Linked DNA regions of Homo sapiens: region 2 is linked to region 1. Evidence: fine-mapped expression QTL. Tissue or cell type: NK cells. Region 1 holds a variant in brackets; the other region holds the start of a gene. All regions are shown on one strand. Distances are between the middles of the regions.

The links. PIP is the estimated chance that this variant, and not a neighbour inherited with it, causes the effect.
Region 2: RAD51B starts here. The variant in region 1 is fine-mapped to the expression of RAD51B in NK cells (Gilchrist 2021, PIP 0.95). The same link has a PIP of 0.9 or more in sun-exposed skin.

Annotation. Positions count from the first base shown.
Region 1 is chr14:68,591,613-68,596,817 of GRCh38, reverse strand. It overlaps a transcript of RAD51B not described here. Among named protein-coding and RNA genes, the nearest start is that of RAD51B-AS1, 91 kb to the left of the region's middle. The variant G/C (reference allele first, on the strand shown) is at 2,276.
Region 2 is chr14:67,816,679-67,821,801 of GRCh38, reverse strand. RAD51B (RAD51 paralog B) reads right to left here and starts at 2,023. Exons shown (of 11, transcript NM_133510.4): 1 at 1,949-2,023. RefSeq lists enhancers at 875-1,636, 1,896-2,190, 4,681-4,780, 4,831-5,000.

The DNA of each region.
Region 1 (5,205 bases):
AGCTGGAACATTCGCAGTGCTGTTTCCTTACGATGGGAAGAGACATGATCTTGACTCTGCTTCTGTAGGAGATGGTGATGAGGAGTAGCTGAAAGCTAGATAGGTTCTTTAAAACCTGTGACAGAAATGGCGTGTGCCAGGCCTATCTGTTTTGCAGGAGCTTTTACAGCAGCCCAGCTGTTTCCTTCTATGAACTCATTTATTACTCCCTTCGTCCACTCATTGGGCATTACTCTATGGGGAACACGGTCCTATGAGCCAGACAAAAAAAAGCTGAATTGTCTTAGTCCCTTAGTTTTGCTCTTCCCAATTCCCTTCATCATCCTTCCATAAAAGGAGAAGGGCCATTGTTCTCCCCAGCCCCTTTCTTTTTTGTCACATTTTCAAAACTCTGAGCGTAGGGTGCTATGAAAAGGCTTACGAGAAGGGATGAATCACCCCCATGGTTGAAAACCCACCGAGCAGCTGTCAAGGTTTATAATTGTCCTCCATGAACCCCTGGAACCCTTCTAGGACCCCCTTGGAGATGCTCATTACTGATTAGAAAAAAAAAAGTTTGGGTACGATTAATTCCCAGCGCCAGGTAGAAACAAAACCTTTCCAAAGCTGTTACTGTCAGTGAGAAATTCACCCTGGTGGTGTTGTTTAGGATATCAGATATTCTGTGCCTCTTGCCCCAGAAGTGTCTGTTGTGGAAAGGGCTGAAGAATTTGAATCTCCAATATAAAATGGAGAATAGACATGGGATAAGAAACAGGAAACACATCTGCTGGTCTCTCAGATAATCTTTTTTTCTTAATGTATTTTTCCCCTGATTTTGGGAACATGCATGTTAATGGGAGGAAACTTGAAAAAAAAAAAAAAAAGACAATTCCAAAAAAGAAATAAAAGTCAAGTATAATCTTATTGCCCAGAGATTGCACTGTTAACATTTTTATACATATTTTTCCAGTTAAAATGCACATAATACTTTTTTCTTACAGAACTACTACATTGTATGCATATTGCTTTATAATCTGTTTTTTCTCTTTAATAATATGGTGTGAACACTTTCCCATGAGATTAAGCCTTCTTCTGACACATAATTTTAATGACCATCTAGTATTCCATCGTATAGATGTTAATTTAACCAATACCATATGGTCGAACATTTAGTTGTGTCTATTTTTTTGCTAGTATAAATAACACAATGTAGACATTGGGGAGACTGACTCAGGCTGCTCCCTTGTTCTGGTCATAAGTCACTTAGTCCTTCCTTAAAAGCCATTGGTCATTTGATGGGCCAGACAGACTTCACAACCCTTGCTCCAAACACAAGGACAAATTTAATCTACTCAAGCTAGGAGTGGCCTTGGATGTTCTCTTAATTCCACAGAAACACTGATGTAAAAAGACAGTTATACTCAATTCATTTGTTCATGGATGCATTATTTCAGACAAAACAGGCTCCCTTGACTGATTTCCCTTTGGCCCTGGTCTTCTTTTCTTCAAGGCAGGCAAGCTTATTGTAACAGCAAAGGAAGCGAAATGCCTTTAGCAAGGTAAACCTGTAGAAGCAACTGGAAGCATGTATTCCAGGGTGAATCATTTTTAAATCATCTTCCATGTTTAGGATTTTCCATGTAAGTGTTCTGCTCCATTAGAGTGGATAATTGGGAGGGAAGAGAATAAACGTTCCAGCGCTCCTAACATGCTGAGGCATTTACCAAAATGCTGTGGTTCATCTAGGCAGAGGGGAAGGCATCGGCTCAGGAGCACTGAGTAAATACTCAGTGGAGAAACTGGGGCAAAATCTAGGCTACTGGATCCTAGTTTGTCTCAGCCTCAAGAAATTCAAGCTGCCACAGTGGGTGGCGGGGTGCCTTAGTTCACCTCCTGTTTCCACGTCCCTGGTCCTTTAGCTCAGCAGCAAGCCAGGGAGAAAATGTACTCCATGGTGGAGGGCATGGGCTGTGTGCCTGGGACATTTGGTCTGGGGAGGGGCACCTGAGCAGGTCACCTGTCACTCCATTGCCCCCTTTCTCATTCTTGTGGCCCTACACACATCTCCAGTGGCCATTGGATGAGATTGCTAAGGACAAAATTCTCATTGGAATGGCAAAGTCTCATACTTGTAATCCTAGCGCTTTGGGAGGCTGAGGTGGGTGGATCTCTTGAAGCCAGGAGTTTGAGATCAGCTTGGGCAACATAATGAGACCCCACCTCTACAAAAAATTAAAAAATTAGCTGGGTATGGTGGCACATCTGTAGTCCTAGCTGCTCAGGAGGCTGAGGT[G/C]GGAGGATTTCTGGAGCCCAGTTCAGTTCAGCTTGGGTGACAGAGCAAAATGTTGTCTCTAAGAGAGAGAGAAAAAAAAGGAAGTCAAAGTCTAGGCCCTTTTGCCTTTCTCTGAGGCCCTGAGGCTTCCTGAAGAGGATGGTTGAGGAAGACCTGATGGAGAGTTCAAGGGGTATGGCATAGGAATGTACATAACGGTAGACATGTGCAAAAGAATGCGGGTGGGGAAGAAGTATTCGTGTGTGCACACACAAACTCTCTCTCTTGCTCTGTCTCTCTTTTCCTTTTCCTCTCTCTCTCCCCCACCGCCTCACTCACTCATAGCTTAATGGGGTTTCTGGGAGAGGAAATTGTGGTCTCAAATGCATATGAAAAGTCCTGGAACAAGCTCTCAAAGGCGTGTGGGGGTGGGGAGCACGGGGGGTGGGGGAATCACAAGACTGCCCTTGGGCAAACATTTTTGTCCCACCTCTCTTTTCAGCTGTCCTAATGTGTCATCAGACACCCCTGCCCAGCCTGACAGGCCCACATACACAAACAAAGTGCCCCAGTGAGCCATTCCTTTCCCAAGCCGCTGAGGGGTCTTCTGGGAGTTGGAAAGGATTCTTTCTGAGCTGATCCGACACTGGCTGATGAGCTCAGCTGTCTCCTCTTCTAGGAAAGATTTACTGCAACAGAGCATGGCTGCCTTCCATCCCCCTTCCCAGCCGTCTTTCTTCCAAGCCAGAGACTGAGGTTGGGGAGTTGACAGAGGGAATGCTGGGAATAGACCAATATTTCTTCCCTGGGTGATTTGAGGGGCTGCACAGACAGTGGGAGCCTCTCTTTGTGCCCATAATTAGACAATAGTGGCATCACTATAAATGCCAGCCCTGATACATTCCCCACTTTCAGCCAGCCCAGGTGCCAGGCACCTGCATCTTGGCCTCTGGAGACTAAGAAGGAAGGGTCCCATGCCCATTTGCCAACCTTTTATACTAATGATGTGAATTCCCTCTTGTCCCATTGGATTTCATCTCTCCCTCCCCATCAAACCACCTACAGAGACAGGCCCTAATCAGTTCCTACTACAATTTTCTTCTGTTTGCCACTGGGACAACTTGTCCCCTACCTGCAGCTTCTGCCCACTCAGCATCAAAGGGCCCAATGATCATCGGCTGGCGAGAGCTTGAGAGCCCACCAGAGAGCCCATCATGGGCCTGGCCCTGTTCCAAGAGCCTCTCACATATTAACTCATTTAGTCCTTAGAACAATTCCATGAGGTGGGCAGTTATGATTCCTGTTTTCTAGACGAGGCTACTGAAACCCAGAGAGGTTCATTAACTTGCCCACGGTCTCACAGCTAAAGAATGGAAGATCTGAACTTAGCAGCCTAGCTCTGGAGCCCTGCCCTCGAGGCCATGCTGCAGGCGGGAATAAATCAGTTCCAGTTCCGCCAGCCCTTGCTGCTGGCCCAGTTCTGACCTGGTGCCTCAGTCTGACAACAGGACTCTGTCTTGCTTCTGTGCCTAGGTTCCTTCTCTAGAGACCTGGTATGTTCCACTTTCTAGCATACCCTAGGATGCAAGGTCCCTCATTTCAAGTTCTGGAATCCCACCCTGAGCCCATTCTGATGGCCATGGCCATGGACCTTCCTGATCTCAGACCATAAGAATGACGTATCACTCAGTCCCATATCCCACGCAGAGCCAAGAGCACGGTGCCCTGCACACACATAGGAGCTGTTCAAATCACATTTGCCGAAGGGAATCAATGCCAAAATGCTCTGTGCCTCAGTTTCCTCATCTATACAATGAGGCAATAAGAATACATCCAGAGTTTTGTAAGAATGAATTAAGTGAATCTATGTGTCTGGCATGTGGCCAGTGAACAGTGAGGGTTGGCAGTTACCATTATCGATGTAGTGGTCGCTTCTATGATACGTGGCAGAAGAACTTTGAGCTCTAGCATTCTAATCCTGGCCCTGCCACTTCTCAGATCTATGATCTTTGGCAATTGAACCAACTTTTTTTCCATGCTCGCTTTCTCATTTGAAAAGTTGCATAGTGATACTTGTACCTCACAGAGATTTTGAGAATTATGAGATAATATGTGCAAAGTACCGTACCTGGCCCAGAAAAAGATCTCAACAAATGATAGCAAAATTATTAGTATTATGATTGTTATTATTGTAAAACTGGGGTGCATACGCTTACAACATTTGGGGCCACTCAGTATTTTTCCTGTGACAGACTCCTCTCTTTGATACACACACATACACACACACACACACACACACACACACACACATCATTGCCTACCCCTTTGTACCTCCCTGCTCACATTTATGGTGCAATGAAGACATCTGGGGTTTAGCCATTCCCCATCAGCCCTAGCTGCGGGGGAGGGGGTTTAGGAGCTTTCATTCATGGAAAGCATCAATTCCCCCCCTCCTAATACTGAGGGGACACAGTATCACGGCCATCTGGAAGGAATGGCTTGACCAGATCCTTCAGGGAGTAGGACTATCAGAGGACAGGGAGTGTGAGCTTCTCTTTGACTACCTGGAAGTCACCTGCCTCCTGAGTGTGTGCCCAGCTCCACACAGTCCTAGGTGGTGAGACAGTTTCCCCGGGCTCCATTTCTCTAGCAGGATCCAGAAGTGAAAGGAGAGAAGAGGAGTGACAGTAGGACTGTGAGGCCCATCCAGGTGGCCGGCCAATCACTTCCACATCCCAGGGGCTCAGGACTGCACATCCAGTGGCTGCTCCAGATCCCTAAAGATCTCCCCAGGCCTGCCAGAGCACCACATGGTAGCAGGACCCCACCACTCCTTAGCAACAGGGTGAGAGATCCTTGTTGCAGCTGGTTGTGGGGAACCCTTTCATTTTCACTCACAAAAATGAAAAGAAGCAACTCCCCCACGCCACCGGCCACACACACACAGGGGG
Region 2 (5,123 bases), 770 kb after region 1:
CAATTTAAAAAAAAAAAGAAGGAGAAAGAAAAGAACCATAGGCCACACAAGGTAGCTCACGCCTACAATCCCAGCACTTTGGGAGGCTAAGGCAGGCAAATTGCTTGAGCCCAGGAGTTTGAGACCAGCCTGGGCAACATAGAGAGAACCTGTCTCCACAAAAAAATACAAAAATTAGCTGGGCATTGTGCCGCACACCTGTAGTAGTCCTAGCTACCCAGGAGGCTGAGATGAGAGGATCACCTGAGCCCAGGAGGTCGAGCCTGCAGTGAGCTGTGGTCATGCCACTGCACTCTAGCCTGGGGAACAGACTGAGACCCTATCAAAAACAAAAAACAAACAAACAAAAAACTATAAATTCTAAACTACAAGGACTTTAACAACAACCAATTCTGCCATTTCTGCCTTAATAGGGCCACTCCCATCACTTGCCTGGACTATTGCATATTGTTTCTGGCCACTCCATTCATTTGTTCCTTAATTTACTCCTTCCACAGGCATTTAAATACACACCCTGCTGAGGTCTGGGGTACAAGAATCATTTAAGCATATTCCCTCCCCTTTGAATACTCATAGTTGAGATGAAAAGAGAGGTACACACAAATAACTACAGCCATGCAGTAAGCATTACAATTGCTATTTAAAAGTGCTATGGAAGCAGACAGGAAGAAGCCCCAAATTCGCCTGCAAAAGTCAGATCAGTGTCACAATCCTGCCTTGAGTAGCTTCCTAAAAAGTCACGATTATCCTTTAACACTTCCCATGGGACTGGTAGACCACAGGATAAATTCCAAACTTCTTAGGGTCGCAGAGAAAAACATCAAAAATTGGTCCCTCACTTCCTTCTCACTCATACATCACATTGCAACGTTCAGTTCCTATCCTTCCTGGCAGTTACTTCACCTCTCAGTGTCTTAATTTCCTTAAAACCCTTGTTTTACAGTCATATGAATTTACTACTTCATATGACTGTAGTGGAGGTTAAAGGACTCGGGGAGTGCGTGGCACATAGTACTTAAGGTCAGCAATCATCATTTAATGACTCTCACATGATCTGCCCTCCAGCCACATGGTATGTGTATTGGTAGGTCACGCATCCTGTCTCCCTGACTTCCCTCCACAAAACCTTCCCCAGAGTCAAGTCTTTTCCTCTCCAATGTTCTCATCAACTTCGCACATATCTATTCGATAATCTTATCAAAATACTATTATGGCTTGCAAGTTTGTTTGCCCCCACCGGAGCACGTAAATTCCTGCGGTGTATGTGTGCGCGAAAGCACGTATGTGTATTGCACATGAGGGGAGACGGTCAACCCTGGAGAATGAACCCTGTCCTCCTTACCACCAAGAAAAGAAAATTCTTCATGTTAGATGTTCAACAACTGTTTAGGAACAATATTAGCTAATATTTATTGAGCCCTTATTACGTGCCACACTGTTCCAAAGGCTTCGGATATTTTACCTCACTTTACAGATAAGGATACTGAGGTAACTAGTTGAGAAACTTGGGCAAAGTTAAACAGCTGACAATTGGTGTGAAGCTCGCATTCGAATCCAGGGACCGGACTCCAGATTCCACGCTCTCCAACACCACCTGAAGTGGGAGAGTCCCTCAACTTCCCCTAATGACAGGCTGCCCGAAGCGGGAAGGGGCTGGGGAGGAAGATGGGCAGCAACAGGCGGAAACATCACCCAGAATCCCCTAAAAAGAGCTTTTTCCAACAATGAGCAGCTTCCAAGCATTCCCCACCAAAAGAAGGCCCGAAGCTCCCCCAATTCACAGCGGGGTTCTTAGTGACGATCCCGAGTCTTAAGGGGGCGTGACCAGCACCCAAGAGAAAATCTCCGCTCCCCCAATATCGAAACCCACGAGCCTAGGGAAGGAGCAGGAAATAATGAGCGAACCCCACTTCCCCACAACGGCACCCCACATGAAACTTTCCAGTACCGGGTCTGCAGCATCCAACTTTCAAGTTTCCCCACCCTTTACACAGTTTCCCCGCGGAAAACGCCGCAAAGCAACAACCGAAGCACTGATTGAGTCGTCATTCTGGCTACTGTATCCAATCAGAGGCCGGCAGAGGCCCAGGTTGGCTCCGCGGCTTGCTGGGAATTGTAGTTAATACTATGATCAGCCTAACAGATCGAATCTGAAGCAGTTTCTCAATATAGTGATTATCAAAATCTGTTGCAGGACCATCACCAAAGAGAATGTGAAACAAGGGAACACCCTGTTTGGAAATTTTTCTTTTTTCTTTCTTTTTTTTTTTTTTTGAGACGGGGTCTCGCTCTGTCGCCCAGGCTGGAGTGCAGTGGCGCGATCTCGGCTCACTGCAAGCTCCGCCTCCTGGGTTCACGCCATTCTCCTGCCTCAACCTCCCTAGTAGCTGGGACTACAGGCTCCCACCACCACGCCCGGCTAATTTTTTTGTATTTTTAGTAGAGACGGGGTTTCACCGTGTTAGCCAGGATGGTCTCGATTTCCTGACCTCGTGATCCGCCCGCTTCGGCCTCCCAAAGCGCTGGGATTACAGGCGTGATCCACCGCTCTCGGCCCTGGAAATCTTTTTTTTCGTGTATCATCACTTTTCACAATGGCTTAAAGGGGCCAGACGCAGTGGCTCACGCCCGTAATTTCAGCACTTTGGGAGACCGAGGCGGGAGGATCACTTGAGCCTGGGAGTTCGAGACTAGCCTTGGCAACATAGTGAGACACCCTCCCCCACCCCTCCGCCTCTACAAAAAAATACAAAAAATAGGCTGGGCGCGGTGGCTCATGCCTGTAATCCCAGCACTTTTGAAACTGCCCGATGGGTTCACCTTACCAGCTGCCTAGACAGAACCGATTTATCAGGACAGGGGAATTGCAATGCAGAAAGAGTAATTCACGCAGAGCCAGCTGTGCGGAAGACTGAAGTTTTATTGTTACTTAAATCAGTTGTCCCGAGCATTTGCGGATCGGAGTTTTTACCAATAATTTGGCTGGTAGGGGCTTAGGAAGTGGGGAGTGCTGATTGGTCAGGTTGGAGATGGAATCATAAGGGGTCGAAGTGAGGTTTTCTTAATGTCTTCTGTTCCTGGGTGTGATGGCAAAACTGGTTGCGCCAAATTACTGGTCTGAGTGGTGTCAGCTGATCCATGGAGTGCAGGGTCTACAAAATATCTCAAGCACTGATCTTAGGGCTTGCAATAGTGATGTCACCCCCGGGAGCAATTTGGGGAGGTTCAGACTCTTGGAGCCAGAGGCTGCATGACCTCTAAACTGTAATTTCTAAACTTGTAGCTAATTTGTTAGTCCTGCAAAGGCAGACTGGTCCCCAGGCAAGAAGTGGGTCTTTTCGGAAAGGGCTGTTATCAATTTTGTTTCAGAGTCAAACCATGAACTGAATTCCTCCCCAAAGTTAGTTCAGCCTACGCCCAGGAATGAACAAGGACAGCTTAACGGTTAGAAGCAAGATAGAGTCGGTTAGGTCTGATTTCTTTCACTGTCATAATTTCCTCAGTTATAATTTTGCAAAGGCGGTTTCACTTCGGAATGCTGAGGCAGGCAGATCACTTGAGCTCAGGATTTCGAAACCAGCCTGGCCAACATGGCGAAACCCCGCCTCTACTAAACATACAAAAATTAGCCAGACATGGTGGCAGGCACCTGTGATCCCAGCTACTTGGGAGGCTGAGGTGAGAGGAGCCAGACATTGCCTCAAAAAAAAAAAAAACCTTAATGGGCCAGAAAGCCATGTTACTTTTCTCAGGAATCGAGGACAATCCACCAATCACAGAAGAGTTTTTGGAAGAAAACGTTTTGTTTGTTTTAACTTGCTCTTTTCACCACCCTTTGGTGATTAAATAGTTTGGGAAATGCTGAATGAAATTACTAAACCTGAAACACACATAGTGAGGAAAGCTGAGAGTCTGTGATTAAAGCACACCAGGGAAACCAAACAAAAGGCTTGGTGTAAGGCAGCTGTGGTGAGCAAACCTAGTAAGCCGTTACTTCAAGAGTTGGTTTCAGGCTGGGAACGGTGGCTCACGCCCGTAATCCCAGAACTTTGGGAGGCCGAGGTGGGCGGATTGCCTGAGGTCAGGAGTTCGAGACCAGCCTGGCCAACATGGTGAACCCCTGTCTCTATTAAAAATACAAAAATTAGCCGGGTGTGGTGGCGCGCGCCTGTAAATCCCAGCTACTCAGTGAGGCTGAGGCAGAAGAATCGCTTATCCCAGCTACACAGTGAGGCTGAGGCAGGAGAATCGCTTAAACCCGGGAGACGGAGGTTGCAGCGAGCCGAGATCGCGCCATTGCACTCCAGCCTGGGAGACAGAGCGAGACTCTGTCTCAAAACAAAAGACTTGGTTTCAGATTATTGTGTTTGCGAAAAAGCCTTTGCTCATTCTTTGCTCTCTGATCTCTTATGCATACTTCTGTCTTATAATTTAGCCCACCGTCTCCTAATTTTTGGCCTGCATCTCCCTTGAGAAGAAGGACCTCCATTTACTCAACTTAGAGAATAGGGCCTAAGCCCGGTGTAGTGGCGCGCGCCTCTAGTCCCAGCTACTACAGGAAGGCTGAGGCTTAAGGATTACTTGATCCAGGAAGTTCGAGGCTGCCATGAGCCGAGATCACACCACCGCACTCCAGCGACAGAGAGACTCTGTCTCTAAAAAAATAAAATAAAGCCTAGCACACCGTTCAATTAACAGTTGTAGGGTAAATGTGCAAATAAATGAATGGAGTGAAGCAGAAGAATATGGAAATTCAGACCGCAGAGTTCCGGAACAAAAGAGCCCAGTAGATAGAATAATAATGGAGGAGAACCCAGTTCTCCTAGCTCCGGGTATCCCCCGCGCCTGGCAAAACACCATCACTGGTTGGCGTTCAATAAATGTTGACTTCACATGTTAAGGAGATAAGAGAGTGGAAGAAAAAAAAAAATCCAGGGTCACAGTTCTTCCTGCCACCTGCTCGGCCGAATGCAGAACTGAAAGTATTGAGCGCCGGAGCTGTCACAATTGAGGGAGATGGTCCGCAGCCAGGTAGCTGATTTCCTCTTTCCGAGCTTTCTAGCTTTCCCTACTCCCGGAGAGGTGGCGTCACGTGACTCAAACAAATATGGCACTTAATTTTC